Regions from separate parts of the Homo sapiens genome. Here regions 1, 3 and 4 are each reported to be linked to region 2. The links are microRNA targets in miRTarBase. Many come from high-throughput screens and were not tested one by one. Region 2 holds a microRNA gene; each other region holds the end of a gene's coding sequence.
Evidence for each region. The annotated mature microRNA hsa-miR-6868-3p reads UUCCUUCUGUUGUCUGUGCAG and lies in region 2 at 4,104-4,124, shown strand. An mRNA with a match to its seed (bases 2 to 7 or 8) in the 3' UTR can be bound and repressed. Matches are read on the target gene's strand: a 7mer-m8 pairs with bases 2 to 8, a 7mer-A1 pairs with bases 2 to 7 and ends in A, and an 8mer does both.

Region 1 (8,137 bases), not on the chromosome of region 2:
ACCAGGAGAGGCAGTGAGGGGACCAGGGAGAGGCTGTTGCAGTCCATCAGGCAAGAGATTGTGATGATTGGGCCCAAGGAGTGGCCCTCCCTCAAGAGAAGGGCTCACCTTTGGGGAATATCTCAGGGGTAGATTGGACGGACCTTGGGCTTGGATTTGGGGTACATGGGAGATGGAGGCATCCAGCCCAGAATTGGAAGGTGTGGAGCTCTCTGTTCCCCTCTCTGGTTTGGTGGGGAAGTCCACCAGGCCAGGGCTTTAGGAAAAATAGAATTTGAGCTTAGCCTTAAGAGTCTGGTCAGGCCAAGCACAGTGGCTCACACCTGTAATCCCAGCTATTTGGGAGGCTGAGGCAGGAGGATCACTTGAATCTCAGAGTTCAAGACCAGCCTGAGCAACATAGCAAGACTCCTCCTCTAAAAAAATTGTTTTAAATTAACCACGTGTGGTGGTGCACACTTGTAGTCCCAGCTACTTGGGAGGCTGAGGTGGGAGATTGCTTGAGCCTGGGAGGTTAAGACCCACCTGGGCAGTATAGCAAAAGCCCATCTCAAAAAATTAATAAAATAAAAGAGTCTGGTCGGTATTTTAATGGGTGTTGAAGCAGCATTCCAGGCAGAGGGAACAGCACAAGTGAAGACATGAAGGTGTGAATGGTGTGTTTGGAGCTGAGGCTCCTGGAGCCCGGAAGGGTGGGGTGGGCCTAGGCAGCAGCTGGGCAATGCTTCCCTCAGACACTGAACCACATCTTCCTCTTCTCTGCCCCTCCTTTTGTGTCTGTAACTGCAGCTCAGGGAATAAGGTTGGGGGTGTGGATGGCAGGCCTTGGCCTGTAGCCACCCCAGCTTATATGCTCTGTGCTTCTTCCTGCAGGTGAAGGTGGTGAGCCTGAAGCCTGAGGTGGCCCAGGTCGACCTGTACATCCTCGGCCAAGCCGACCACTTTATTGGCAACTGTGTCTCCTCCTTCACTGCCTTTGTGAAGCGGGAGCGGGACCTCCAGGGGAGGCCGTCTTCTTTCTTCGGCATGGACAGGCCCCCTAAGCTGCGGGACGAGTTCTGATTCTGGCCGGAGCACCAGACCCTCTGATCCTGGAGGGACCAGAGTCTGAGCTGGTCCTTCCAGCCAGGCCTGGCAGCCAGAGGTGCTCCGGGATTGCAAACTCCTCTTCTCACCTGCCAAAGATGGAGAAGAGTGCCAGGGACCCCTCAAGGAGGGAGACGCTCCATATCCCAGGGCATAGGACTTGCAGGTTCCTAGGAGCAGGAGCATCTCCCATCGCACGTGCTTTCTGCTCTTCTGGGAATTTCTCACACTGGCAAAGCAGTCCAGCCTCCGTCTTCTGGTCCACTCTGCTCTGAGCAGCCTGGGATGCTGAACTCTTCAGAGAGATTTTTTTATAGAGAGATTTCTATAATTTTGATACAAGGTCATGACTATCCTAGAACTCTCTGTGGTTTTTGAAAATCATTGAATTCTATTAATGTAGGTACCTAAAGTGACCTTAACTGAATGTGGATGAGGCTGGGGCTGGTGTGGGTCTTTTGGCTGCTTTTCAAGGTGTCCCCCAATGTGGCCCTCAAGAGCCATCCCCACTGCCTGGCCAGAGCCATTGTTGTCCCCTACTTCCTAGGCCATTTCTGGGGCTTGGGGGATGAATGCTGTCCTGTGCTGTAAACACTATGCAAATGGAAGTTATCGGTTGTGGTGCTGTGCAGCGCTCTGTGGGCGACTAAGTGCCACTCACGCAGCATGTTCCTGGCAAGGAGCACATACCATCAAGCCACACTATCATGGTATTGTTCTCACAGTCTTTTGGTGGTTGATGGCCACTGCAAACCTGGCACCATCAGATCTCTTCTGATCTCTTGCCCCAGTGGGGCCTGGTTGGTAGAATGTTGGCATTCGGTTGATATCCAAAGCCTGTTCTCCCAGCCGTCCTCCTGCAGCTGGAGCCTTCAGGCCGTATTCTCACGAGGGAACGTTTGCCAAGGCTCTGACCTCACAGAAGATGCCCAGGGCCCAGAAGCCATCAGAATTATCAGTGGAGAAGCACCTTTTGACTCTTCCCTTCCAATGTAATCTCTGCCAACACCATGAGGCTTAAGGTGCTCTAAGTCATGAGTGTTTTGGTCTCAAATGCTGCAGTTTTAATAATCTGTGACTCCTGAGAGCCCATGGTTTTTTGACCTTGTGGTTCTAAAATTCCTTGTCTGACCCCTGTAGATCTTTTCCTTGCCATGTCACCTCCCTTGGCCTTTGATCCTGGAAAGGTGGCAGAGCCTCCACTGAGCCAGGCCCAGAGCTCCTTGCAGTGCCTTCTTCCTTGTTTACCTGTGGGAGGAAACACTTTTTTTGTCAGGGGCAGCCTGGTTCAGAGCTCAGAGGTCACACTGTATCAAAGATCTCAAACAGCAAAGTCAGCATTTGCTGTATAGAGCTGCCACCCAACTCTAAGCAGGAGAAACTGTACAGAAAGGGCTTTGCTATTTTTCCCTTTTGGGAAAACAATGAAGTGTTTTAAGTCCTGGGTGGACTGAGAGATGGTTTGCCTGTCCAGACTTGCTCTCAAGCCTCATCCAGAGAAGGAGCTGCAGATGAGGGAGCCCGTACACTCCCTGCCACCACTAGGTTGTAAGCCTGTAGCTGGCTGGCTGATTTCATTTTGGAATTCATTTGCCATCCACAGCCTTACACTAGGCACACACTTTAGAGTCTGGGGCTCCAGTGGGGCCCGCCTAATTTTTTTTCCCCCCAAGACAGGGCCTTGCTCTGTCTCCCAGGCTGGAGTGCAGTGGCATGATCATGGCTTACTGCAGCCTTGATCTCCCAGGCTCAAGCGATCCTTCTGCCTCAGCCTCTCTGGTAGCTGAGACTGCATGCCCAGCTCCAAATCACCTTGATTCATATCAGCAGTAATAATCACTTGTGTTCTGAAAGAAAGGGCACCAGAAGTTCTAGCAAAATTCAGTTGTGTTCTGTGAGCTAGCACTTTTTCCTCTGACCCAATTTTCTTACCTATAAAATGGTGATAAAAACCGACAGGTTGTTCAAAGGCCCAGATCAGCTAAAGCATGTATATAAGAGCACGTTGTAAACTTGAAAGAGACAAAGGCACAAATGTGGCTGTTGATTAATTTGACTGCTTCTCGTTGCTCGTCACCTCCATGCCAGGCACTGTGCTTGCTAATTGCTTTATGGGGGCATTCTCTTATTTATTCCCCAGCCCTGGGAAATAGGAGCTGTCATTATCCTTCTCTTTCTGCACAAGGAAAAATTAATGCCCTGAGAATTGTCATAATTTTCCCAAGGCTGCCCAGCTGGTGGTGTTAAGCCAGAATTTGACCTCCCAGAGCCAGTTTCCATTAGCTGCCATGCTCTGCTGCCTCTAATTCACAGAATGCACTTTCTACCCTGTGTGCCATGGAGACCTCCTATGGAAAAATGATCAGCCACCTTACCTTCTACTGGGTACCTGCTGTGAGTCTGCCTATGCCAGAAGGATTAAGGAGGGGAGGTTACCCAAGAAACAAAGCCTACATGCCGCTTACAGCCCCCGTTGGATGGTTGCTCAGTACAACAGTCTTGCATTCAGCAGGTGTTTGTTCATCACCTACTATGTGTCAGGCTCTATGCTAGGTACTGGGGATACAGGAGAGAATCAAGCGTAAAGTCTTTGTTCTCAAGGAATTTGCATTCTAGAAAGTAGAAGATGTAATAAATGTACTGTGGGACATGTTAATAAGTGCTATAAAGAAATATAAAGGGTTTGGGAGCAAAAAGAGGGAGTGGATCTATTTTAGATGAGCCCAGGTAAGACCTCTCTGAAGAGCTGTCATGAAGGAGGGAGGGAGCACATTCCTGGCAGAGAAAACAGCACGTGCAAAGGCCCCGAGACTGGAGTGTGTTCCTGAAGAGCAGCCAGGAGGCCAGCATGGCTGGAGAGGCAGGCATAGGCAGGGAACCGAGCAGCAGGTCAGAGCAGGCGAGCTGACATTCTGCAGCCTGGACGGCCATGGCAGGAAGCTTTTAGTTGGAGAGATACAGGAAGCCTCCTAGGGTTCTGAGCAGAAGAGGGGCATGAGCTGATTCACATTCTGAAGGACCTCTCTAGCTGGCCAGTGCTGAGGAGGTTGGAGAGAGAAAGGGTGAAAGCAGAGAGACCAGTGCAGGGCTGTTAACAGGGTTGCAGGCGAGAGACTGGGGTGCTGGGCTCCCCTAGACTAGGACTCCAGTGCCCTCCTCTCCCAAGAGACAAAGGCCATTGCATTGAAGGAGGTGGGAAATGATTAGATTCTGAACATATGTAATTATTTTTCAGTCTTTTTCAAAGATACAAATATTTACATAGTTTTAATCATGTAATATATACAATTTAATGTCCTAGTGTTTTACTTAATAGTGTATCATGTTTTCCCTGTTGGTATGTAGCCTGGATAAATGCTCTTAATTATAAAAAATTCTGTCGAGGAGTGTTCCATAGTTTATTGTTTTCCTATTATGAGAATTTAGGCCAAGTGTGGTGGCTCATGCCTGTAATCCCAGCACTTTGCGAGGCCGAGGTGGGCAGATCACTTGAGGTGAGGAGTTCAAGACCAGCCTGGCCAACATGGTGAATTATCTCTACTAAAAATACAAAAAAATAATAATAATAGCCAGGCGTGGTGGCACATGCCTGTATTCCCAGCTGCTTGGGAGGCTGAGGCAGGAGAATGGCTTGAACCTGGGAGGTGGAGGTTGCAGTGAGCCGAGATGGTGCCACTGCATTCCAGCCTGGGCAACAGAGCGAGACTCCATCTCAAAAAAAAGGAGACTTCATGTGCCCCCAATTTTTCACTATTGTTATTTGAAAAAATATTTTTATTTGTAAGAGTTTTTCTTTATTTAAAATGTTCATTAATAAAGTTGTTGGACGGGAAGCAAAAAAAAAAAGTTGTTTAAGATAAATTCCCAGAAGTGAATTTGTTAGATCAAACACTTAAAACTTTTTGTTATGGAAGAATTCAAATATAAATAAAAAATTGTGAGTAATAAAATGAACTCACAGTTTCAACAATGACCCACATTTTACCAGTCTAGTTGCATTGACTCTCCCACACCCAAGTCTGTTTGCTAGAGTCTTCAAGAAAACCTAAATGTGTTTTGAAAGAAGAGCCAACAGGATTTGCTGACATGCTGAATGTGGACTGGGAAGGAAAGAGGAGCCCAGGGTGCTCCAAGATTTAGGGCCCAGGCACCAGGGAGTTGTCCCTGACTTGCAGAGTGACCTTGAAGCAAATCCCTTCACCTCCGCATTCCTCACCTCAGCATTACAGGTGCTAATGGTCTAGGCAGTGCTTCCCAAAGGGTGGTCTTCAGAGGTTCCTTCCAGGGCTGGTTGATATGGCAGATTCCCAGGAGCCACCCTGAACCTGAGAATCAGAATGTCTCGGGGGTAGTGCCCAGGAATCTGCCTTTTCACAAGCACCTGCAAGTGATTTGGATGCCCAGTGGCCCAAGACCTGAAACTGTGGTCGTCAGACCAGCGGCATCAGCATCACCTGGGGGAACTTGCTAGAAATGCAGAATCCCAGGCCCCCGCCCAGAACCACTGAGTCAGGATCTCTGGGGACGCAGCCCAGGAATCTCTTAAGCTCTCTTGGGGCTAAAACTTGAGCAACACTGATCTGAAGGAAGTGGGGATCTCACTGTGTGGTCATTCAGCCCACGGTAATGGAAGACCTCTGCAGCCCCTCCCTGGCAAGCCTCACGGGTTCCACCAGGCATGGTCAACAAGGTGGCTTTAGGAACTGCCTGCTGCCCAGTTTGTACTGACCTACATCTCCTATTGTATATTTGTAGGGGCTTTACAACCAGATGATCAAATCTCATTGTTTTACGGTCAGCCCAAATTTATATATAAGAAAAGGAAGGGAAGCCTGGGCGCAGTGGCTCACTCCCATCATCCTAGCATTTTGGGAGGTTGACACAGGCCAATCGCTTGAGCCCAGGAGTTCGAGACCAGTCTGGGTAACATAGGGAAACCCCGTCTCTACAAAAAAATGCAAAAATTAGCCAGGCATGTGGCATGCATCTGTAGTCCCAGCTACTCGGGAGGCTGAGGTGGGAGGATCACTTGAGCCCAGGAGGAGGTCGAGGCTACAGTGAGCTGTGATGGCACCACTGCACTCCAGCCTGGACATTGGAGTGGGACCCTGTCTCAAAAGAGAGGAAAAAAAAAAGGGAATTCAATTTTTCAAAATTAAAAGGGAATTCCATTTTTCAAAATCTGCATCTGATTGGATAGAGAAATGGAGAAGCTGGTGTTCAAAGGAACCAAAGCTGGAAACACTGTCCTGAAACATTGTAGATCTCCAGACATTTGGAAGGGAGGGGAGAGAGAATAAGAAAATAAAGAAGAAAGAGGAGAAAGGACAGAGGGAGGAAGAAAGAGTTGAGTTCTCATTTCTATTTTCTGTTCAAAGAAGCTCAGCAAATAATCTATTAATAGTAACTACAACAAAAATAATAATAAGCTTTCACTGGCCTGAAAATAAAGATCCTTCCTCTCCTCAGTTCTCCTTCTGTCCTTAGTGGAATTGACAGAAAAAACCCATAGCCTGAAGGCAAATCCTGCACTCTGGATTATGTTGTCAAAGTGAATTCAAATTCTTGCTTGAAACCTGGTTTATTTCAGGGTTGAGACCTTTCCCTTGAAATAACATTATTTAAGGGCAAGCAGGTTTGGTTTGTTTTTACATCTAATCCTTTATTGATCATCAGCCCAGGATGCCAAGCATAACCAGGTAAACAGTGAGAATGGAAGAAACAGAAGGCATTTCCCAGAAACCCCATTCCTCAAGTGCAGTGACTCAGAACAATGCCCACCTGGGGGCAGCACCCCGGGGAGGATACCCCACCCCTCTGAAAAATCCACCTTTGCAAAAAAATTGGCAACACATTGATCCATTTGATATTCATCTCCTCCAGTGTGGGGGATGTTTTCCCCTCTCTGACACTGCACAAGCTGGTTTAGGAGGTCCTGGGCAGGCACTGGCAGAAGGCAAGAATTATCTTTTCAGTTTTTCTCAATCCTGCTAACAATGCCCAAAGAGAAAGTCTCAGTTCAGTGCTATTGTGTCATTAACTCCTCTCTACTGCTTGCTAATAATCTGTCCTTGTAACAGAGTAGACCTCAGAGTCAGACAATCTTAGTTTTCTGGAATTTAGTAACACTATTACTAAGTAAATAAATGAATTATTTATTTATTTATTTATTTATTTATTGAGACAGGTTCTCACTCTTGCCCAGGATGGAGTACAGTGGCTTGATCTTGGCTCACTGCAGCCTCAACCTCCCAGGCTCAAGCCATTCTTTCACCTCAGCCTCCCAAGCAGCTGGGATCACAGGCACGCACCACTGCACCAGCTAACTTTTGTATTTTTAGTACAGATGGGGTTTCGCTGTGTTGCCCAGGCTGGTCTCGAACTCCTGGCCTCAAGGGATCCTCCTGCCTCAGCTTCCCAAAGTGCTGGGATTACAGTGAGCCACCGTGCCCTGCCATTTTATTTATTTTTGATCCTTTGTACTTGTGTTTTTCTGTTTAAAGATGTGATTTAAAGTTTCCTTTTAAGAAACTTAGGTTACAAAAAGTGAGTTGGTTCAGAGAAAAAGTATTAAGTAGATGGTGTGGCATGAATTATGAAGATAAAGTTTGGGAGATCCTTACTCGGCTGGCCCCTGAAGATAGCTCAAAACAATACCCAAGGGGCTTTTGTGAGAGAAACTCTCCTCACTTTTCACACCTCCGCACTATTGTCTAAGCTTTTGCTCTGCTTAAAACATATCGTAAATGTTTCAAGATTCTATGAAATTCTCCTTTTCTGAGCTCCCATAGAACCTTGAAATTGTAATAATAAGTAACATGGGCTGGGCACAGTGGCCCACGCCTGTAATCCCAGCAGTTTGGGAGGCTGAGGCAGGTGGATCGCTTGAGCCCAGGAGTTCGAGACCACCCTGAGCAACAAAGTGAGACCCGCCCCCCCCTCCATCTCTACCAAAAGTCAAAAAATTAGCCAGGCATGGTGGCAAGTGCCTATGGTTCCAGCTACTCAGGAGGCTGAGGTGGGAGGATCACTTGAGCCCAAGAGGTTACAG
Region 2 (8,137 bases):
GGGAAGCCATCTTGGGCTGATTATTTTAAGAAGAATTAATTTGATGCTTGGTTTGCCTTCAAATAAAATTTCAACCAATTTGTCTTAGACCACCTACTATATGCCAGGCACATGATAGGTGCTGAAGATACAGTGGGGAACAGGTACACCCTGTTCCTTCGCTTGTGGAGTTTATTGTCTAGAAAACCAGAGAAAAGGCAGGAAATGCCGAAGGTGGGTGTGTAGAAGCAGTGCTGGGACCACTGTGAGTCCCAAGATCAAGAGGCTTCCCTCCCGCAGGTGTCTATCTTATCATCCTTTGAGAGCCGCCTTATGAAGCTGGAGAACTCCATCATCCCTGTGCACAAGCAGACGGAGAATCTGCAGCGGCTGCAGGAGAATGTTGAGAAGACGCTGTCCTGCCTGGACCATGTCATCAGCTACTACCATGTGGCCAGTGACACTGAGAAGATCATCAGAGAGGGGTGAGTGAGTGAGGCCCAGAGGGTCAATTCCTAATGCCTCCTGGGCCAACAGGAGGGTTGGTCTGTAATCCCAACAATTTGGGAGGCTGAGGTGGGAGGATCGCTTGAGACTAGGAGTTCAAGACCAGTCTGGACAACACAGTGAGACGCCTTTTAAGCCCTAGGCCTTAAAAGGCAGTGGGGGGATAGAATATATTTGAGCCTGGAGTCCCCTGTATTAATTTTCTTTTTCCCAAATACTGTGTCCTTAGTCCTTCTTCATCCCCCATGCCCCAGCCTGACCTGGCTCTTTTCTTTCCCAGCCCCACAGGTAGGCTGGAAGAGTACCTGGGAAGCATGGCCAAGATTCAGAAGGCAGTGGAGTATTTCCAGGACAACAGCCCAGACAGCCCGGAACTCAACAAAGTGGTAAGGGGTCCGCAGAATAACGTGAGAAGCTTGGGGATATCAGTCTCTGCCCTGGTCTCATGAGGGACATGGAGCCAGCTTGAGGATGTATGCAGTAGAATACACAGAAGGATATAGCACAGTACATCCTATAGGCATTAGGATCTCTGCTTCAAGAATTGCACATTTTTTATTATTAAAAATTCTTTATTATAAAACTTGTTAATGTATTATAAAAATTAAATTATAAATTACATATAAAATATAAACTTAACATTTGATTTGTTGTTGTTGTTGTTGTTGTTGTTGTTTTTTCCTGAGACAGAGTCTTGCTCTGTCACCCAAGCTGGAGTACAGTGCTCAGCTCACTGCAACCTCTGCCTCCCAGGTCCATGTGATTCTCCCACCTCAGCCTCCCAAGTAGCTGGGATTACAGGCACTCGCCACCGCACCTGGCTAATTTTTGTATTTTTAGTAGAGACGGGGTTTCGCCATGTTGGCCAGACTGGTCTCGAACTCCTGACCTCAGATGATCCCCCGCCTTGGCCTGGGATTACAGGCGTGAGCCATTGCACCCAGCCACGTTTGATTTTTATAAATGCATTTGTTGTTCCTTTATTTTGGTTAAAAATACATAATATAAATTTTTTTTTTTTTTGAGATGGAGTTTTGCTCTTGTTTCCCAAGCTGGAGTGCAATGGCACGATCTCGGCTCACTGCAACCTCTGCCTCCGAGGTTCAAGTGATTCCCCTGCCTCAGCCTCCTGAGTAGCTGGGAGGGTGTGCGCCACCACTCTCGGCTAATTTTTTTTTTTTTTTGTAGTTTTAGTAGAAACGGGATTTCACCATGTTAGCCAGTTTGGTCACAAACTTCTGACCTCAGGTGATCCGCCCGCCTCAGCTCCCAAGGTGCTGGGATTACAGGTGTGAGCCACCGTGCCTGGCCAAAATGTGCTATTTTAACTCTAAGTTAACAGTGGCATTAAGTAGATTCACAATGTTATGTAGCCATCACCATTATCTCCACAAATATGTTCATCTTCTCCAAGTGAAACTCCACTCCCATCAAACACTAATTTCCCATTCTCCCTTCCTCTGTCTTCTGGTAACCACCATTCCACTTTCTGTTTCTGTGAATCTACTCTAGGAACTTGAATCTATGTGATTTTTTTTTTTGCATTATTATCTTAAGAGACAGGATCTGGCTTTGTCATCTAGGCCAGACTGCAGTGGTACAACCATAGCTACTGCAGCCTCGAACTCCTGGGCTCAGGCAGTCTTCCCACCTCAGCCTTCCAAGTAGCTGGGCCCACAGGCATGTGCAACCATACCCAGCTAAGTTTTAAATTTTTTGTAGAGATGAGGTCTCCTGTGTTGTTCAGGCTGGTCTCAAACTACTGTCCTCAGGTGATCCTCCCACCTTGGCCTCTCAAAGTGTTGGGAGGGATTACGGGCATTACCCACTGTACCTGCCTTCATCATATTTTTGTGTTTAAGTTTTGGGGTCATTAGATCATCAGAGCAAGATGGTGACTTGGCCTCTGGAAATCACAAATCTATTTTCTGTCTTTATGGATTTGCCTATTCTGAATTTCTAATATAAATGGTATCTTATAATACATGGCCTTTTGTGACTGGCCTCTTTCACTTAGCGTGATGCTTTCAAGATCAATCCATGCTATAGCATGTATCAGTACTTCATTTCATTTTCATGCCATATGATATTCCTTTTTGTGGATAGACCACAGTTTCTTTTTTTGGTTTTTTGTTTTGTTTTGTTTTTTGAGACGGAGTTATGCTCTTGTTGCCCGGGCTGGAGTACAATGGCGCAATCTTGGCTCACTGCAACCTCCACCTCCTGGGTTCAAGCGATTCTCCTGTCCCAGCCTCCCGAGTAGCTGGGATTATAGGTGCCTGCCACCACACCGAGCTAATTTTTTGTATTTTTAGTAGAAACGGGGTTTCACCATGTTGGCCAGGCTGGTCTTGAACTCCTGACCTCAGGTGATCTGCTTGCCTCGGCCTCCCAAAGTGCTGGGATTACAGGCGTAAGCCACCGTGCCCAGCCAGACCACATTTTCTTTAGCCATTTATCCTTTGATGGACACTTGGGTTGTTTCCAATTTTTGTCTCTTGTGAATAATGCTGCTATAAACCCTCTTATATATGTCATCGTGTGGACAGATTCATTCTCTTTTATGTTTGGGATACCTGTCTTTTATCAGATACATAGTTTACAAATATTTTCTCTCATTCTGTGGGTTATCCTCACTTTGTTGGTGGTATCATTTGCAGCACAAAAGTTTTCAACTTGATATTGTTCAATTTATTTATTTATTTTCTTTTGCAAACCCCCCACTAACAAGAAGACAAATTAACGGTTCAGTGAGAAAATAATCGGCCAGTATTTTTTTTTTTTTTTTTTTGAGACGGAGTCTCACTCTGTTACCCAGGCTGGAGTGCAGTGACGCAATCTTGGCTCACTGCAAGCTCCGCCTCCTGGGTTCACACCTTTCTCCTGCCTCAGCCTCCCGAGTAGCTGGGACTACAGGTGCCCACCACCACGCCCGGCTAATTTTTTTTTTTGTATTTTTAGTAGAGATGGAGTTTCACCTTGTTAGCCAGGATGGTCTCGATCTCCTGACCTTGTGATCTGCCCGCCTCGGCCTCCCAAAGTGCTGGGATTACAGGCGTGAGCCACCGTGCACGGCCAATCAGCCAGTATTTATTAAGCACCTACTTCTTGTAAAACCCTGGGTTTTACCTGTAAACACAAATTTTGAGAGAACATGAAGTAAAGGAGTCACCAAGGCCGCTTCCCAGCGTTTCTTCTTTGGGTTAAAGGATATCAGGGCAGGCCAGGTGCAGTGGCTCATGCCTGTAATCCCAGCACTTTGGGAGGCTGAGGCGGGTGGATCACCTGAGGTCAGGAGATCAAGACCATCCTGCCAACATGGTGAAACCCCGTCTCTACTAAAAATACAAAAATTATCTGGGCATGGTGGCACGTGCCTGTAATCCCAGCTGCTCAGGAGGCTGAGGCAGGAGAATTGCTTGAACCAGGAAGTCGGAGGTTGCAGTGAGCCAAGATTGTGTCACTGCACTCCAGCCTGGTGACAGAGCGAGACTCCCTCTCAAAAAAAAAAAAGATATCAGGGCAGAAAAGGGCAGAGGCCCTGAGTTAAGAAGACAGAGCTGGCACAGGCAGGGGAAGGCCAGGACTGGCAGAACACTGAAGCAGCAGGCACCTGCTTCCTTCTGTTGTCTGTGCAGAAACTGCTCTTTGAGCGCGGGAAGGAGGCCCTGGAGTCCGAATTTCGCAGCCTGATGACGCGGCACAGTAAGGTCGTCTCGCCCGTGCTCATCTTGGATCTGATCAGTGGTGACGATGATCTGGAGGCCCAGGAGGACGTGACCCTGGAGCACCTGCCCGAGAGCGTGCTCCAGGATGTCATTCGCATCTCCCGCTGGCTGGTGGAATATGGCCGCAACCAAGGTAAGGGATTCTGGCTTGGCCACATGACACACCAGAGGCAGAGGGAGTTTTCTCCCCTTTGTTCTTTTTTTTTTTTTTTTTTTTTTTTTTTTGAGATGGAGTCTTGCTCTGTTGCCCATGCTGGAGTGCAATGGTGCAACTCGGCTTGCTGCAGCCTCTGCATACCCGGGTTCCAGCGATTCTCCTGCCTCAGCCTCCCGAGTAGCTGGGATTACTGGCGCATGCCACCATGCCTGGCTAAGTTTTGTATTGTTAGTAGAGATGGGGTTTCACCATGTTGGCCAGGCTGGTCTTGAACTTCTGACCTCAGGTGATCTGCCCACCTCAGCCTCCCAAAGTGCTGGGATTACAGATGTGAGCCACCATGCCTGGCCCCCTTTATTCTTTAATCCACCTGTCATGGTTTTTTTGATAAAAGGATGTTTAACTGGAACCAATATAAGAATATAAGCAACCATTCTATGACTTGTATATCAAGTGGTGAATCTAGGCAAATTCAAACTTTTCTTGTCTTGATTTTTATGTTCCTTTGCCTTTTTTGATTAGTTGTAAAATTTTCAAAGCCATGGGTGAAAAGTAAAAGTCCATCTCCCATTCCCTGATGCCTCCATTACATAAGCCAAAGATGAGCACTATTAAGGTTTATTTATGCCAGGTGCTGTGGCTATGCCTGTAATCCTAACAGTTTGGGAGGCTGAGGTGAGTGGATCGCTTCAGCTCAGGAGTTCGAGACCTGGCCAACATGGCAAAACCCTGTCTCTACAAAAAATAAAAAAATTAGCTGGGTGTGGTGACGCATGCCTGCAGAGCCAGCTACTTGGGAGGCTGAGGTGGCGGGGAATGACTTGAGCCTGGGAGGTGGAGGTTGCAATGAGCTAAGATCACGCCACTGTACTCCAGCCTGGTTGACAAAGTGAGACTCTTGTCTCAAAAGAAAGAAGGCCAGGTGCAGTGGCTCATGCCTGTAATCCCAGCACTTTGGGGGGCCAAGGTGGGCGGATCACCTGAGGTCAGAAGTTCAAGACCAGCCTGACCAACATAGAGAAACCCCATCTCTACTAAAAATACAAAATTAGCTGGGCGTGGTGGCGCATGCCTGTAATCCCAGCTATTACTGAGGCTGAGGCAAGAGAATCTCTTGAACCCGAGAGGTTACAGTGAGAGTGCACTATTGCGCTCCAGCCTGGGCAACAAGAGCAAAACTCCATCTCAAAAAAAAGAAAGGAAGAAAGAAAAACTCCAATAGATATTCAGTGTTGCACTTTTTTTTTTTTTTTTTTTTTTGAGACAGAGTCTCGCTCTGTCACCCACGCTGGAGTGCAGTGGCATGATATTGGCTCACCGCAACCTCTGCCTCCTGGGTTCAAGCAATTCTGCCTCAGCCTCCCAAGTAGCTGGGGTTACAGGTGCCCGCCACCATGCCCAGCTAATTTTTGTATTTTTTGGTAGGGACAGGGTTTCACCATGTTGCCCAGGCTGGTTTTGAACTCCTGACCTCAGGTGATCCACCTGCCTCGGCCTCTGTAAGTTCTGGGATTGCAGGCATGAGCCACCTCGCCTGGCAATGTTGCACTTTTTAGCCCTCCAACTCTTCTCTTTGTTTGTGTGTACACATACCAAGTTGTCAGCGCGGGCTTGCCTTGCCCCAGAACTGTGTGGCGGCAGGTCTCACGGCCGCGATGTATCTGATCACATGAACACGTTGTGGCTCGTGAGCTGATGACAGCTCGGCAGAAGATTTTCAGGAGCTCCTTAGGATCAAGAGGGAGGCGCAGTGGACAGCCTCCAGACCTCTCAGCCTGTGCCTCTGTGTTTTGGTTCATTTCTTCTGTCGGGGTTCCTTGTAAACTATTTGTTGGGAACTTCTGAAATCCACCATAGTTTTCATGTCCTTTTCCTCAGTCATGTGTGCAAGGAGCTCTTCCTGTTTTTCAGCATTGATGAATGGTACCAAAATGGACATACCTTTGTGAATTGCTTTTTTCTTTGAGGAAGTTCTTGAGGGTTTATTCTCAAGGGTGCAGGGATTAGGTGTAAGTGTCTGAAGATACTTGTAACCTTCTTGCCATCACTAGCTCCTCTCTAAATAGATCAGGCCAATCGATGGACTCATCGACAGTTCCATGGCCATTTGTTCTTCATTAATTTTTGTTTTTGCTATCTGATAGGACTATCACAGTCCTCTAATTTTTTTAATTTATACTTTATTAATGGCTAAAGATGTGTGTTTTTCATTCACTGACATTTGTTGTCTTTTTGCTTCCTATAGAGCTCATGTTCTTTGACCCCTTACCAAGTTGAATCTGGATATTAACTTTGTTTTTTTATTTAAAAAAAAGTACTATTTAAAACTTACAACTAGGGCTGGGCGCCATGGCTCATGCCTGTAATCCCAGCTACTTGGGAGGCTGAGGCGGGAGAATCACTTTAACCCGGGAGGCAGAGGTTGCAGTGAGCCAAGATCGTGCCATTGTATTCCAGCCTGGATGACAAGAATGAAACTCTGTCTCAAAAAAAAAAAAAAGCTTACAACTAGGGCTGGGCGGTGGCTCATGCCTGTAATCCCAGCACTTTGGGAGGCTGAAGCTGGTGAATCATTTGAGGTCAGGAGTTCAAAACCAGCCTGGCCAACATGGTGAAACCCCATCTCTACTAAAAATACAAAAATTAGCTGGGTGGTAGTGGCTCATGCCTGTAATCCCAGCTATTCAAGAGTCTGAGGCAAGATAATTGGTTGAGCCTGGGAGGCAGAGTTTGCGGTGAGCCAAGATCACACCACTGCACTCCAGCCTGGGCGACAGAGTAAGACCTTGTCTCAAAAAAAAAACAACTTACAACTAATTATCAGTTCTATCAGAGGGTGTTTTTCTCTTTTAAGACTGCCTGGCCAGGCATGGTGACTCACGCCTGTAATCCCAGCACTCTGGGAGGCTGAAGTGGTCAGATTACTTGAGCCCAGGAGGTCGAGCCTGCAGTGAGCTGACATCGTGCCACTGCACTGCAGCCTGGGCAACAGAGCAAGACCCTATCTCAAAAAAAAAAAAAAAGACTTTGAAAGACTTTGCCTGATTTGGGACAAGATATGGGTGGCTTGTGACCAGAGCAGGGAGCAGATGCTAAGAAGGGTTGACAGGTTTGACAGGTAGACATGGTGGGTCTGCAAGGCAGAGACAGGGCCTGGCAGCCGTACCTCTATCCCTCTGTGTCTCCTCAGATTTCATGAACGTCTACTACCAGATACGCTCCAGCCAGCTGGACCGCTCCATCAAAGGACTGAAGGAGCATTTCCATAAGAGCAGTTCTTCCTCTGGGGTTCCCTACTCCCCTGCTATCCCCAACAAGAGGAAAGACACACCTACCAAGAAGCCAGTCAAGCGGCCAGGTGAGCCCCCATCCTGGCCCATCTCTGCAACAGCCAGAGGCTGACTGGGACTGTACTGCTTTAGTCCAATCTAGCGTTCGCAGCGTCAGGCCCCTCCAGAGCTTGTCGTCGTGGTAACCCCGACTGTAGGTACACAGGACAGAAAGCAAGTGTCTACCCACCCAGTGAAGCCCCCCAAGAGCAAGACTCTTCCTTCCAGCTAGCAGAGCCTGGGGTTACACAGCTTCTTTGGAGTAGGGGAGTAACACAGGTGCTCAGCGAATCCCGCCTGAGGCAGAGCCCCTGCCTAGGCCTCCTCCCTCACACACACGTCGCCCTGTCAGAAGGCCAGGCACACTACTGCAGCCAGGATGCTGGGATAGCAAGGGGATAGGTGCTCCAACCTTCACCTTCCAGAAAGGCAGGGTG
Region 3 (8,137 bases), not on the chromosome of region 2:
TCCATATACTGACTCTAAAAAAGACTGCGGGGAGTTGCTACAAAGAAAGGACAATGAGAAAGATTGAGGTTTAATATCCTAGGACTCAGATATCTTCTAATAATAATTGAACCTTCAATTATTATTGTATTCATTCAATTCAACTATTTTATGGTTCTCAGTTCTCCAAGGCCAAGAAGATTTCCAGGTTGGCATCCTTTAATCAGGAATAGGGACTACCACATGCAGTGCAATGAACAGCCATGTCGAGAAAAGAACAAATTGTGTCCAAATTTAAATAACAAAATGAGATACAGTGGTCCATCTAAATTCCAAAGGTATTTTTAATGCCAGAAAAAACTTCAGTAACAAATGATGAAATAATTTTTTAGAAAAATTATATGGAAATAGCTTTTTAAATTTATATTCAACAAAAATTTATTGAGCCCTTTTTACTTAGCCACTGGGGCTGTAGACATGGCCCTTATCCTCATGGAGCATACAGTCTGCTGGGAAAACCAGACATTATACAAGCAGAGAAAGTACAGACACTGTTAGGAAGAATAGAGGACATTGTGGGGACATATAGCTGGGAGCCTTAAATAAGAGGGGTCCCTGAGAAAATGATGTTTGATCTGACATCAAACCTTGAGAAATAATATTTTCTTGTACTGATAATTTTTATTGACACATAGTTGCAGTTTCTCATGTTATAGAACACACTTGGACCTTTATTTATTATATAGATCCACCCAGGAGTGATATTCAAAATATCCAATGACAAGTAAGGCAGAAGATAGGCCAGTTAGAATAGAAGCAAGCCACAGTGCTGTGTCAGGATCCTGGAAGCTGCCTTTTGTGCTGTGCATTAGCCTTTAATTGCCCAGTCATGGGGAAAGGCCTGGGCATCCTGTGAGAGGGTCTCCAGTGCAGAGGGACCACTGGGGAACCACTGTATCTCTACTGGTACTTTTCAAAAAAGCATAAATATGTCCAGTGTATTCCAAGGGACATACTTTTTAGTTGACAAACAAATTGTATATATTTATGGCACACAACATGATATTTTGTTATATGTATACATTGTGGAATACTAAATCAACTAATTAACACATCCATTACCTCAAATACTTATTTTTTGTGGTGAGAATATTTAAAATCTACTCTCTCAGCAATTTTCCAGTATATGATACATTGCTATTAACTATAATCACCATGTTGCACATAGCTCTTCTCTACTGGTACATACTGATTAGATATCAGTCCTATGCACACTTGGTTTCTCTATTGAAATTCTCTAGTCTAGTCTTGAATAGTTTAGTCAAATTCGATCTCCCAAGTTTAAATCCCTTATTATTTCAGATAGCCATATTGTACAAAACTAATCACTAAGAAAAAGTTAAAATAGTCTGAGAAAATAAGTTGCTGGTTTTAAGAAAGCATTAAATTTTAATGTGTTGGAAACCATTTTTCCACACGGTTCTTTTTTTTTTTTGAGATGGAGTCCTGTGGTGCCCAGGCTGATCTCAAACTCCTGGACTCCAGTGATCCTCCCATGTAGCTGGAAGTACAGGCACATGGCACTGCACCCAGCCTCCATATAGTTATAAAGTGTGACAGCATTAAGAATGCTTGATTTATATTTCTTAAGAAATATAATCAAGTCATTTAAAGAATTTCAATAATCTCTAAATGTAAGCAGTTCTAAGAATATATTGAATCTTTGGGTTATGATTTTATCTCATAAGTTCAGGCACCTCTTTCAATGTAAGAAAAAGTAAGACATTTTAGCATAAGGTTAAATGTATTATTGAATCCACAAAGTATCAGCAATTGGCTAGTACAAAATGAATTATGTTACTGCTTAAGAATCAAACATAAATTTATCTCCACCAGAAAAGAACAATTACACTAATTGAGCTTGGAGGTACTGTTGTATTGTTAAGTAGAATGATCTATTTAAATGAGGTCTTTTGTTTTTGTTTTTTTTTTTTTGAGACGGAGTCTCGCTCTGTCGCCCAGGCTAGAGTGCAGTGGCGTGATCTTGGCTCACTGCAAGCTCCGCCTCCCAGATTGACGCCATTTTCCTGCCTTAGCCTCCCAAGTAGCCATCATGCCCGGCTAATTTTTTTGTATTTTTAGTAGAGATAGGGTTTCACTGTGTTACCCAGGATGGTCTCGATCTCCTGACCTCATGATCCGCCCACCTCGGCCTCCCAAAGTGCTGGGATTACAGGCGTGAGCCACCACGCCCGGCCAATGAAGTCATCATTTTTACACTAGCAAAATATGGTAAGCCTGGCTTCCTGGGACTAACCCAAGCTTTGCAAAATCTAAACATTTAATGCTTAAAAAATGCAATTCTTATACTTACTAAAAGATCTTATAACTAAGGCAGAAATGCTTACATGAATAACTGATTTGGACTAAACACTGTAAACCCGTGAGTTTGTTTATGCCCTATCCTGAGGTAAATTTGGACCTTCAGTCAATTCTAGTAGAAATTTGTTCACTTCTCCCTGGTTCTTCATTTGAACATGTCAAATAGTTACAAATATTTATATGATAACCTTTTATATTATAGCTGCATCAAATACAAGCACTGTAAGAAAAGAAGGGGAAAATTGTTTTTCTTTAACAAATTATGATACAGAGTTTATGCTAAAAGGCAACTTGTGAATCTCTTTCATCCTCATATGCCTTACACCTACAAAAGAGCATTGTTACTCATTTGATAAAAGCATTATCAAATGTGTATTTTCAGAATCATTTATGAACACTGCTCTAGTAAAAATGTTAAGAGATGCATGTCACAGATATTCACATCTTAGCTCATTTATCTGCAAGTCAAAGACTAGTTTTAAGCAAAGGAGAATTACTTTGCTTAAGCAACTCCAAGTGACTGCCATTTCTAAAACCCAGGAGGGAAGTGACAAGTACTGGGACAAGCCAGAAGAAGAGTCATTTCCAGGCCTGCAAGAGCTTTTCTGGCAACCTAAATATATTGACAGAGAAGTTGTTGGGTCTCCATATTTCTTCAGTAAGCTTCCATTTGGCAGGCATACTTTAATCAAGTAGATGATTTAAGTCCAGCAAACCTGCATGCTACAAAATAATTCTGACTCAAACTTGCAGGCCTTTTCTATTTGTAGTTTCCCCCTACTCCCGTTTTACTAATAGGGAGGCAAAAATGAGTCCTTTGGACAAAGCATCTTACGTTTGGTACAGGCTTTGGAAGCTGCATTGTGGATGGGACCAAACACCAGCTTTTTGGGATCTGACAGACCAAAATGTAAATGACTGTTCCTCCATCTACAACTTGAGTAATCTGAATAAGCCATTTAACCTCTCAGAGTTTCCTTTTCTTTTTTTTTTGAGATGGAGTCTCTCTCTGTCGCCCAGACTGGAGTGCAGTGGCGCAATCTTGGCTTACTGCAACCTCCACCTCCCAGATTCAAGCAATTCTCCTGCCTCAGCCACCCGAGTAGCTGGGACTGCAGGCACATGCCACCACGCCCACTAATTTTTTGTATTTTTAGTAAAGACAGGGTTTCAACGTGTTAGCCAGGATGGTCTCGATCTCCCGACCTCGTGATCTGCCCGCCTCGGCCTCCCAAAGTGCTGGGATTACAGGCATGAGCCACTGCGCCCGGCCTCTCTCAGAATTTCTTTACTCATGATGTTGGAAAAAAATAAACTTCCTTGTTGTGAGAATTAGGAATAAGCTATGCACATGGTCCGGCAGACAGTTAGCTCTCAGTAAAGAGTAACTCTTGGTTTTGTTTGTTTGTTATGTGTTGTTTGTGTTGCTCTTGTGGTGGTTGTGGTGGTGATGATTATGGTTTTGCCCGTTCCTCATAAGAGGATCTTGTGTTTGCCTGTTCACAAGTAAACAGTGCTATAGTAGCCTGGTCCTCTTCTCATGGCCTGCACCAGTAGTTCTCCACAGTGGGTGATCTTGCCCCCTCGGGGACATATCCTACAATGCACAGAACAGCCCTCCCCCGGTAAAGAATTATCCAGCCCAAATGGCAATAGTGCTGAGGTTAAGAAATTTATTATGTTTATTTATGATAAACATAATAAACTCTAGAGGCAGGAAAACCTTAACAACCATCAGTATATTCATCACAAATTTGAAACTATACATGAAGAGAATGAAGGACCATTTTAGAAATAAGCATAAAATAAGTATGGATAACTATTAAACAGGCTGCCTGGTCAATCAGCGTGGCTGGATGTGTTCATGATATATTCTTTTTTAACAGTACATTCATTCATGCTTCAGGTACATATAGCATGATGAAGTCAATGCTCAACACCACCAACCTGAAATAAATAGTTAACTTGCCGTAGACAAAGGGGCTTTCAGTAATACCCTAAATCTCCAATTCCACGAATTAAAAATCTTAATATGGGTGTGCTACATATCTAAAAGCTGATCAGACTGGACATTTAAGATGAATACACTTTCTACACTTTAATGTATAAAAATGTTTATATATTTCAGTATATAAACATTTTATGAAAATAAATCTGTTATATAATCCAAACAGAACTGGGCTAAAGTTAGCTTTGCTTTGGAGATGACACCATATAACTAACAGTATAAACCAATTTAGAGTGTGTGTGGACCCTTCTGCACATTTGAAATACCTCTGTACATTGAAATGACTAAACTGCCTTTTCAGATCACACTTACTCAAGCCAGTCCTCTCAGCTCAACAACTTTTATTAGTGGACTATGAGTTTTAAAATAAAAAGCTCATGTGTATATATTTTTTAATTATCACAACTAACTCAGAAAGTCCTGTTCTCTTTTCAACTCAAGCTAGTGAGGTCATCCAAGTCTAAGACGATTTGATTTCTCACTTGAGGAATGGCATTTTCAAACCACTTCAAGAAACAAAGAGCTAACCTGGGGAATGTCTGAGGGTAGAAGGAAGTACAAATTGGGAAAAGGGGTAAAGTCTAGTAATAATCGGCATTCTACTCTCTCCCCCCAGTTTTTGAGCAATGTACATACAGTTTTATACTCAGGATATAAAAATGCCAAAAAATATATTTAATTGACAATAAAGTAATAATGTGGTTTTTATGCTATTTATTTGAAATAGAATTTTAGAAAATTATGCACGTGTTTAATCCTGTAAATAGTAATGAGAGAGAGCATTTGAACCGCTGAGAACCTAAACTTTCCACTTAACTTTTAATGTAGAAAGGATCGGTGCTATTGAAAAACTGTCTAACTATCCTACGAAAGTGAGACGATGGTCTTCAGGCCACAATCATGTAAGTGATGCCAACTGGGAGTAAAGAAAAATGCACTTAACATTATTAGAGATAATGTATTTTTTTAAAAAAGATTTGACAGCATAGGCAAGTCTGTGGGTGGTAAATCATGTTTGAAGGCAGAAGAGGCAACAGCAAAGATACCCAGATTCTGCTCTGTGCTTAGTTTAATAGGAAGTGAAGGGGAATTAAGGCTGAGTATAAAAAGCATCTTGAGTTGAAGCTCTTTTTTTTTTCTGTGAACAAATAAACTTTATTCAGGTATAAAAAGCAAGTGCTTTTTCAAATACGTAAAATCTAAAAAGTGTAATACCCAAAGTATTAGTCCATTCTCACACTGCTATGAAGATATACCTGAGACTGAGTAATTTATAGAGGAAAGAGATTTAATTGACTCACAGTTTAGCATGGCTGGCGAGGCCTCAGGAAACTTACAGTCGTGGTGGAAGGGGAAGCAAACACATCCTTCTTCATATGGCAGCAGGAAGGAGAAAAATGAGAGCCAAGTGAAGGGGGACACCTCTTATAAAACCATCAGATCTCATGAGAACTTACTCAGTATCATGAGAATAGCATGGAGGAAACCAACCCCATGATTCAATTACCTCTCACCAGGTCCCTCCCACAACACGTGGGGATTATGGGAACTACAATTCAAGATGAGATTTGGTTGGGGACGTAGCCAAACCATATTACTCATGGACTTATAATGAAGTAATCATTAAAGGCCTTACTTCAGTGAGGAGAGCACAGACCGAAGGAGCCAGATGGAAACCAGAATATGTGAGTCAAGAAAATGGTGAAACATGCCAGTAGGAAAATCTATCTTATCTATCTATCTATCTATCTATCTATCTATCATCTATCTATTTATCTACCTACCTACCTACAATGGTTAATTTTATGTGTCAACTTAACTGGACTAAAGGGTGTCCAGATCTTTAGTTAAACATTATTCTAGGTGTATCTGTAAGGATATTTCCAGATGAAATTAATATTTAAATCAGTAGACTAAATAAATCAGATTCTTCACCTCAGTGTAAGTGGACCTCATTCAACCAGTTGAAGGCCTGAATAGAACCTAAGGCAGTAAGGAAGAATTAATTCTCTGTCTGGCTGTCTTCAAGCTGGGACATGGGTCTTGGTGAGGTCAAGACCTTCAGACTTGGTCTCGAACTGGAACTTACACCTTCGTGTTGAAGCTCTTGATAGTCTAGTCTCTTTAACTCAGTGACAGAATTTGGTGCATCCGAGTTCCCAGAAATCAGAAGTATTGCTGCTTAGAAAGCCACAGCATGGCCTCAGCAAAGGCTGAGAAGGAATGACTGAAATCTACAAGGTTGTAAAGAATATCATTAACAAGGTAAATAAGAAAAACCTTGAAAAAGGAGGGTCAAATTCAAATTTAAAACCCTATTTTAAACAGTAGGGGAAGAACTTAAAAATCTCACCAACCTAGTAAAAATAGGAAATTTATATAATTTCATTTCAATGTTGGTGAATTCATAGATTATAGATACATAGAGAATTTTAGGGAAAACTGTGATGAGCTGGGGATAATCTTCCAAGTTAAGGTGAAGGAAGAGTCTGGGCAAATAGGGGTGACTGTGTTTATCCCTTTAACAAGTATTGACTGTGCCCCATCACATGCCAAGCACTAGGCTGCATGCCCGCAATAACACACTCCCTGCCTCAAGCAGGGCACAGGCTAGCAGGAGACTGGATGAGTAAACTCATGATTAGAATTATGGACATGCTGCATTCTGCAAATATTTTCTTGTGCTCTTGATGACATCCTGCATCCTATTTCCATCTTGTATTCACCCAACTCAGAGTATAACAGCTACTTGCATTGAAAATGTCTTTCTTCAAGAATAGCTGAGGTTTAGATAAGTCTTTGTAACTGTGAAAAAGCCTGAAATCCTTTTGTTCTAACTCTTTGAGAAGGCTGTACCAGAACCGCACAACGCTGCTGTCACTGCCACTGACCTCAAACCCAGGCCAGTGGAGATGGATCTCAAAGATGAGCTGTCCAATCTGCTCAAGAACATCTTCCAGAATAAGATTTTCCAAAACTTTCCATTCTGCACTTTCCAGATCTGCCTTGAGAACGTCAATCTGTAACAAAGCAATGAAATGAGATTAGCAGATTTAGTAAAACTATCTTGATATCAGGAGTTTCACATTATAGCTACCTCTGAAGGAAACAGAATTTTTAAAATTTTAGAGCTGAGGGTGGTTTTCAAGTGGCCATTTGCATTTATGACATGAATTTCTAACCCCATTCCCTACTAAATGTTTTGGTTTTTTGTTCTTGTTTTTAAGAGATGGGGGTCTCGATATGTTGCCTAGGCTGGTATAAAACTCCTGGTTCAAGCAATCCTCCTGCCTCCGCCTCCTGAGTAGCTGGGACTACAGGCGTGAGCCTGTTATGTTAATATATGTTAATATACAAATGATGAAATACCAGGCAAAAATCACAACAGACCCTCTTGCTTTCTGCCCAGTGGGAATGGATATCTGAGAAGGAGAAGTTAGAGTGAGTGTATCACAGACCTCTGTGTACCCCACAAACTATGCCACCCCAGGAAACTCTGCCAAGTCCTGACAGAAGGTGTCTATAGAAAGGAAGTGACAAAGGGCTACTGCCTGCAGGGACTATCTTGCAGGCCTCATCCCCCCAACCCCAACTTCATCGAGACTGGACATCAATGAAAAAGTTATTGAGTATCTGAATATTGGACTATAAAAAAATAATATTATTATTCTATGATTTCTTTACAATGTATATACCAGTATAGCATTCTTAAAAAAAAAAAAAGCAGTAACACCATCCTCTGCTTATTTAATGAACACAAGTTCACAT
Region 4 (8,137 bases), not on the chromosome of region 2:
CGATTATAAGACACATCATTATTCCATATACCACTAAGAAAAGAAAATGCTATTATACAATAATATAATATTTTCTCTTCACATCAATTGTAAATGATTACCTAATTTTACAAATAAAAAATATGAAAAACTTGTGTTCTTAGAGCCCATGAAATATTTTAAAAACCCTTCTCTGTTTAAACCACCATCAGGTGGGATTTCAAATACCTGCGATGAACAGTTTCCTAATTGATACCATTCTGTAATAAACGGACAAATTTAGATTAAGTTAATGTATTTGAAAACAGAGAATGAGGAAAATCAGGCTTTCCTGAGAAAGCTGCAGGCTTGTTATATCAGACCTGGGCCAATGTATTGGCAGATGTATTCCTTTCCCTTTTTCTGTTCTGATCTATAATGCCCTCCTTCAGACTACGTTCCAGCTGAGTTCAGCAAATGAGATACATTTCCTGGAGAGTGAGAGAAGATGAGTGAGGGTGGGGATTGTATTCCTTCTCCTCCCTCTCTGTCGTAAGTGATGTTTCCATTAACAGCTGAAACTTCTCCCTGGATCTGGCTCCTACCAGACAGGCCAGCCAATGTTGCAGCATCTGCTTAGTGATCCTGGCTCCTTGTATTTTTGCCCTTGCATCCTAGAAGCTGTAGTGGCTTCTTGCTTTTGTTCATCTCTAAATGGTTCTCACCTTTCTCTATTTGGCATCTCTGCTGTCTATCACCTGTGCAACCAATTCCTTGCATTAAAATCTCCCTGACACATGAAATATTTGAATTGGTTTTCATTTCTCTAATTAGAAATCAGTTGAGACTTTTTAAAGAATGTTGAATTCTCAATCCTAAGCTAAAGTTATTGTATACTAAGTCAGAGAGATAGGGATGTTAGCAGGAGATATGACTGGGACCAGAGAGAATTCTGATTCTCTAGGCCCCTCCCAAGCACCTTATATAATATACTCTCTGAGGAAAGAGACAATTATTCTCAATGTAAAATGCAACTGGCATGCATCCTGAGGACAGAAGAAAGTTTTTATGTCTCTTCTCCCCCAAGCTGTTGATTCAAAAGCTCAAGGGCAAAATAATTTTTACTCTTAAGATGTTATCTATACATTTTAGTTTCTCTTCCAAGTAGAACTCATCCTTACCATTATCCTCTTCTCTTTCCACACTGAATGTTTATTGTATACACTGGAGGTGAATAAACATCTTTTGGGCTTAGGTTGCTGGTCTGTCTTCACTTGGCAAAAGAGTTTACCTCACCTAGCTGTGCTGGTCTAAGAGGTGAATGCAGCAAACAGATGAGATTTAGATTGTCTCTCTATAGGAAGAAGGTGAGTGTGTTTGGATTATTAGTGAGATTTTGTAATTTAAGATATGGGGAATACAGTGTGTATGAAAAAAAGGGCAGCCAGAAAAAGGTAGTAAATATTTGTGAGGTTTTTTTTTTTTTACATCGGTTTCTTGTATTTATTTATTTTTTTCCCTGACAATAACAACCTGATTTTCCTTTGAGAAATTACCCCTTTCTCACCCTCAGCCCATTTGGTTTCGGTGGTATTAATACTACTTCTGCCTACAGGGATAGACATTTGATTCAGGCCTGGCCAATCAGTACACTGTACCTCCTTGGCCAAAGTGATTGTTCAGGGATGGGCACACACCCTAATTAAAGTCTATGAGACACACAGTTAGGTCTTTTGAAAGGAAAACATTCACTCTGTTTATGCTGAACATGGACTTATGAGGATGTTAAATCTGGAGGTTGTCAACCACTTTGCCAATATAAGAGAAGGGCATGCCCAAGGATGGAGACAAGACACAGGGAAGCAAAGGCGAGAGACATAAAGGAACCAATTCTTGACATTGTTGAGCTGCTGTATACAGCCATACCTAAACTAAATATCTCCCAGAAGTTTTAGTTATGTTAAGCAGTACATTCTTTTTTCTAAGCCTGTTGGAGACATGTTTTCTTTCCATCCTTTCTCCCATCCTTCTATCCTCTTTTTGCTGAAAGAACCCCAAAAGAAGTTTCTATATATGTATGCAGTATTGTATATATTATTTTCTCTTTCCTACCCTTCCTCCTTCCCTTTTGCTGAAAGAATCCTAAGTATTGTAGAAAGCATTTGTATATTCTTGCACATCCTAGAGCTGAAGATGACTTACATTTGATAAAAGGGAATTTAAGATGCTATTTATGTAAACAAACAGAAGCTCTCTATTTATATTATTGCATGCAGATCAGCATTTTGGTTTTAAAAACCTAAGCAACAGCATTTTGATTTTAAAAATCTAAGGTCAATATGTTTTCTTAATTCTCATGGTACAAGGTTTTAGTTATTTTATTGCTGCCAATGAAGCTGATCCTAGGACACTCCTGGTACTTCATCTATGATATTTGGCTCTGTGTCCCTACCCAAATCTCATCTCAAATAGTAATCTCCATGTGTTGAGAGGGACCTGGTGGGAGGTGATTGGATCATGGGGTGGTTCCGCCATGCTGTTCTTGTGATAGTGCAGGAGTTCACATGAGATCTGATGGTTTAAAAATGGCAATTTCCACTGTGCATTTTCTCTCCTGCCATCACATAAGACGTATCTGCTTCCCCATTTGCCTTCCACCATGATCGTAAGTTTCCTGAGGCCTCCCAGCCATACAGCACTGTGAGTCAATTAAGCCTCTTTTCTTTATAAATTACCCAGTCTCAGGTAGTATCTTTATAGCAGCACGAGAACAGGAACTTAAGGATATTAGAAGCTGTTACACTGCCATTTACAAATCACAGAAGTTCATTAATATATACCCAATGGAGTATATTACTCAAAGTACTGATTTTCTCCTAAAATAAAATTTCTTTATTTTAGAAAGGATGCTAATGAGTCTTTTTTTGGCTAATTTTCTACTTAGTTTTGGAAGAAAATCTAACACAGGGTTTTAGAGTTGAAAGGGAATAGTGTTATTTCAGCCCCAAACCCTTTTTTTTGGGGTGCAAAAACAGTCACAGAAATGTAAAAGAGAAATTGTGGATAAAATGGTTAACAATTTGAACAGCCTTTGGCAACTAAAGGTTGGGAAGGAGCTGAGCTTTTCTCTCTTTCGTACTTACTTTTCCACTCTCAGTTCTACTTCCATGGCTACACAATGGGGTTCATAGATAATTTTGTAATTACACATTTTTCTCTTAATCTGTATATACATTATTTATTTTTTTAAAATGTGGATTTTATTTCCTATCTGACCTTCCAGGCTCATTAGAATAGGGACTATATAAAAATGTGAATTTCAGGCTGGGTGCAATGGCTCATGCCTGTAATCCCAACACTTTGGGAGGCCAAGGGGGGTAGATCATGAGGTCAGGAGATCGAGACCATCCTGGCTAACACGGTGAAACCCCATCTCTACTAAGAATACAAAAAATTAGCCGGGTGTGGTGGCGGGTGCCTGTGGTCCCAGCTACTTGGGAGGCTGAGGCAGGAGAATGGCATGAAACTGGGAGATGGAGCTTGCAGTGAGCAGAGATCACGCCACTGCACTCCAGACTGGGCGACAGAGCTAGACTCCATCTCAAAAAAAAAATTTTCAATTTCATTATAATTTCATTATTGGTTTATTAATAATGCTAATAACAAAGACAATGTCACATACTTTTTTAGTAGAGGGGAAAGGGATAATGAGAGCTTAACAACATATTTAGACAGCAGTGCAGGAGAATTTGGAATGGTTCTTCTTGCCTCCTCTAAAGACCCATCTTACTCTCAACCTCCTTGACTCTCAAGAAGGGCTGTGTAAATATGTCCAGTCGGGCTGTGTTTACCTAGCCTGTGTTCACTAGCCGGTCTGACCAAATGCCACACAGCAGGCCAGGCAAATGCCCACAGTGCCTGCGAATTAGGTTGTATTTCCCTAGTATTTAGTAGATGCCATGCATATAGAATGTTAATACAAACTTTTTAAGTCAACTAAAGAACACTGTGACAAGTCAACATTTCACTCGTTCAGAAGCTTCCGAGAGACTAAACTTGCCTTTAAGTACCCATTATTATGAATAGTTTTCAGAACTTTGTATAATGAAGCAACAATATTGTTGATAACTGAAAGTATGATTTCATACAGGATAACGATTTCTGAATTTTTTTTTTTTTTTTTTTGAGATGGAGTCTCGCTCTGTTGCCAGGCTGGAGTGCAGTGGCGCAATCTGGGCTCACTGCAACCTCCGCCTCCCGGGTTCAAGTGATTTTCCTGCCTCAGCCTCTCGAGGAGCTGGGACTACAGGCTCCCACCACCACACCTGGCTAATTCTTTGTATTTTTAGTAGAGATGAGGTTTCACCATGTTGATCAGGATGGTCTCGATCTCTTGACCTCGTTATCCACCCGCCTTGGCCTCCCAAAATGCTGGGATTACAGGCGTGAGCCATCACGCCTGGCCTACTTCTGAATTTTTTTAAACAGTTTTTTACACATGAAATTATACGCAATACAACATACTTGTTTTACAAGTTGAAATCTTTACCGTTATGGTACGTTTACAGTAATGCAGGTAACATTAGCGCATTCACTTAGAGCAGAGTTATTTATCTTCATAGGGCTTAATACAAAGCCAAGACCGAATTACTTGCTTAAACTGCTTTCTAGTCTTTGACTTAAAACAAAAAAGAAAAATTGCTTCTACCTCCTCTCTATGTCAGGATGATAAACAATGCCAACAATTAAGTGGTCTGGTATTTCTAAAAATGGCAGATTGTATTCCAATAGCTCTTAAGTTGTAAATCTTAAGGTTTTAGCTAAATATGTCTATCAAATTGTCATTATCTCTGCTTTCAGGAAAATTATGTCACCTTTGGTAATAGGCTGCTAACAAACAAACTACAGACTACACATCATGTTTTCCCAAAGAATCCTGTATTTTAATGAATAGCTGAATAAATAGACATTAATTATGAAATTCACATTAAGATAGAAGAAAATCCAAACATTCTGATTGCTTTATCTCTTAAATTTGATAACTACTACAAAACATACTATTTATGTTAGGGTAAAAATAAGCTGACTCACAGGAGTGTAACTGGGAAGTGCTGGCAGATATATACAGTAACATGGAGGAGCCATACAACAAAAGCGTTTATATGTACATCATTTTTTTTCTTTTTGTATGGAGAAATGCTGCCTTATAAAATCGGAAAACACACAGTAGACTACATGCAACAAGGACCAATACAATGTGCACAGCAGAAGAATCAAATAAGACACAAGAACTATGGGTTTAAAAAAGAATTTGGGAGCAGGACAAAAAACAAGGATTGAAACCTGGAATGCTTTCTTATTGAGGTTTCAGAATATAAATTTGTCTAACAAGCCTCTTGATAGTTTTCAAAAGTTCCCACTCAACCACCTATGGTTTAAGTGTAGAGCTAAAAATAAACCATCATATTATACAAAACTTTGCATATTAGCATACAAAAGGTAGCAATTTACTTTTTGTATAAAATATAACCTTTTGATAGTATATTTATTTCACATATGTATAAATATAACCCAAAGAATATGTTTGAAGTATTTCTACCAAAATATTCTTTACAAAAGTTTACAAAACAAGTAATTTATTTATATTTACAAACTAGCACAGGGAAGATTCTGGGCCAGTGATGTTGGTATTGTAAAGAAGGAGAGTGCTTCCAGACATTTTAAAGACTGGGAGACAGCTTTGCAGAATTTTCAAAGTGTGTTCTTTTTCTTTGAACAGATATTGAAAGACTTGATTATTAAATAACTTCAGCTAAATTACATTTGATATTTGAATATGTGAGCATAGAACTGAAAGGGCTGAAGATAACCTTTGCTCCTCTGTAATTAGGAAAATGATAGTGATATTTTGCATTCATTCCAAATCAGCACACGTCTTCCCCATTTTACAGCTGATCTGGATGTGGACACTAAGGTTAAATGACTCAACAAAAACTCTTTAATACAGTGCTCAGCCCTGAGGGACAAAACCTGGATATGAAGAGTCCATCTAGCATGTGGCAATGATTCATCACATCAGGGACAAAAGAACAAACAGAATGCTCCTAACAGACCACATTCCATTTTGTTGCTCACCCAAATCCAAATAATACGTCCAATGAAGGACAAATTGTTTTCCCTCTTGATTATGCGTTCCTTCAAACTCCGTGAAATACATTTGTACACACTGGTACTTGCCATCCCTGGTTCTTATCTCCAACCAAAACATGATATTTTCTAATCTCGGTTTTCTTCTCCAAACTTCCTTTTCTTATAAACCAGCCTCAGTCATCAAAATGAGTAGGGAGGACGAGGTTCAATTTCACTCAGCTTGGGAACAAACCAGCAGGCATCAATCATAATAAGCAACATCCCAGGTTATTTGTAGCCAAATAAATCTTATTTATAGCAATGTCCACTGGGTTTTTTAAAAAAGTGAAATCTAATGCAGAGAGGTGTGCACCAATATTTCAGTATGATTAGGACAAGTCTTTGTTATATCTAAAATTTCATTTGGAATGGATTCAGATATTCGTTGTGGAAGCCAAAATCAAATTGCACAGCTCTATATTTTTGTTTAATCACTAGACACAGCATCCCACTGAAGTAGAGGATTGTGGGAAAATTGTAAAAGTGAGGAGTGAATATGGGGAAGAAATTCTGTAATCCACTGGATGTTTTCTAGGTTCTCTGGCTTTTTCTTAATTTGCATACTGTTTGGTTACTCCAAACAAACCTATAACATTTCAATCTATCCTGCAAGCTTCAGGAAAATTAAATGAAAAGACACAATGGAAAGATTAAACCATACCTATCTATTAGAGCAAATTAAGGAGTTTGTTGCTTGGAACTAGTACCTCCTCATGACATGGGGTTTAAATAAACTACAAGTTCTATTACCTTTTTTATTTTCCAGGGAAAAAGAAACTTGGGAAGGCTATTTTACACAATTAATTACACATTGACACCACAGTTCTGTTTGGATAAATTGGATACTGTATCCTGGAGTTTAGACAGGGAAAAGTGATCCCAATATTTTACTTTCAGGTGTAAGATTTAAAACAAGAATTTGGACCAAAATGTTCATCACTGCAGTTACTTTCTGCTTTCCATTTTTAAGCATGTTATCTTCATGTAGTCCACCTGAACATCAACAGTTCAGCCTCTACAGAGTTTCTGTAATATACTGCCTTTTAGTGCTTGGAGTTTGTAAATTGTCTTCCCTTTCTTCTTTAGGAATTGTTCCCCAAGATTTCATCAAGATTGATGTCTTTCATCCAGTCATCATTACCAGGCTCTGTCTTCAATAAAGAATCAATGAAATCAGCATCACTGTTTAGGGCAGGGCCCATGTTATCATTTTGTTGGCTGAGGAAGTCAAAAGCTAAGTCACTGCTGTGGTCAGTTCCTTGAAAAGCCCTGGAACTTTGGTTGGGTGAAGGAAAATTGCTGGGCGTCAGGGATGGTGGCTGGTTGATGCCCGTCCTCGACTGATTCAACCCTGTTCCTGACTGATTCAAATTAGGCAAAATCTGTGTGCTTAGCTGATTGGGTCTGAGATTCAGACCCCTGAGGGGACCCATGGTTTGCCCATTTAGTGTTTGGCTCATTTGGTTCATGGGTCTCATTTGCACTGCTGGTGTTAACTGGTTAGGAGGAGCCACTGCCCTCTGGGAAAATTGCTGGCTACCTACTGCCTGTTGCAGTGACTGATTTGGGGTATAGGCTGCAGGTGTACCTGTGGGGAAGCGGACTCCTGCAGACGTCAGGGCTTCTTGCTGTTTGCTTGTTCCTTCTTGAGAGGCCCAGTTTGGTGCAGTTGTGTTGGATGTGATCATTACGTTTGATGTTCTCTGTGGTGGCATGCTTGCCATACTATGGGTTAAATTTGGTCTCAATTGTTGTGAATTACCAACAGATCCAGCTCCAAAAGTGGCTACATTGTTATTATTACTTGGCCCTAAGGTAGGTGGCCGTGGCATCATAGGGTTGTTTTGATTTGCTAACAATTGCTTTGGGTTTCTCTGTTGGGTCAATTGATTCATTCCTGAAGTGACACTGTATGTGTTAGGTTGATTACAAGGCAGATTTCCATACATCCCCATATTCTGAACTGCTGTAGATAATGATGGCATTCTTG

Region 1: miRTarBase lists POFUT1 as a target of hsa-miR-6868-3p. Seed matches in the 3' UTR shown: 7mer-m8 at 2,584-2,590 and 7mer-m8 at 3,498-3,504.
Region 3: miRTarBase lists METTL24 as a target of hsa-miR-6868-3p. Seed matches in the 3' UTR shown: 7mer-m8 at 5,735-5,741.
Region 4: miRTarBase lists MAML2 as a target of hsa-miR-6868-3p. Seed matches in the 3' UTR shown: 7mer-A1 at 6,151-6,157.

The regions. Positions count from the first base shown.
Region 1 is chr20:32,233,600-32,241,736 of GRCh38, forward strand. POFUT1 (protein O-fucosyltransferase 1) reads left to right here. Exons shown (of 7, transcript NM_015352.2): 7 at 874-5,059. The coding sequence ends at 1,062. It overlaps MIR1825 (microRNA 1825), which reads left to right and starts at 4,196; the gene lies at 4,196-4,248.
Region 2 is chr17:76,094,006-76,102,142 of GRCh38, reverse strand. It overlaps MIR6868 (microRNA 6868), which reads left to right and starts at 4,067; the gene lies at 4,067-4,124. It overlaps EXOC7 (exocyst complex component 7), which reads left to right. Exons shown (of 19, transcript NM_001013839.4): 3 at 280-464; 4 at 767-872; 5 at 4,125-4,347; 6 at 7,562-7,729.
Region 3 is chr6:110,238,872-110,247,008 of GRCh38, forward strand. It overlaps METTL24 (methyltransferase like 24), which reads right to left. Exons shown (of 5, transcript NM_001123364.3): 5 at 5,069-7,389. The coding sequence ends at 7,075. It overlaps LOC105377937 (a long non-coding RNA gene), which reads left to right and starts at 5,199. Exons shown (of 2, transcript XR_942858.3): 1 at 5,199-5,271.
Region 4 is chr11:95,971,719-95,979,855 of GRCh38, forward strand. MAML2 (mastermind like transcriptional coactivator 2) reads right to left here. Exons shown (of 5, transcript NM_032427.4): 5 at 4,880-8,137. The coding sequence ends at 7,230. Among named protein-coding and RNA genes, the nearest start is that of MTMR2, 52 kb to the left of the region's middle.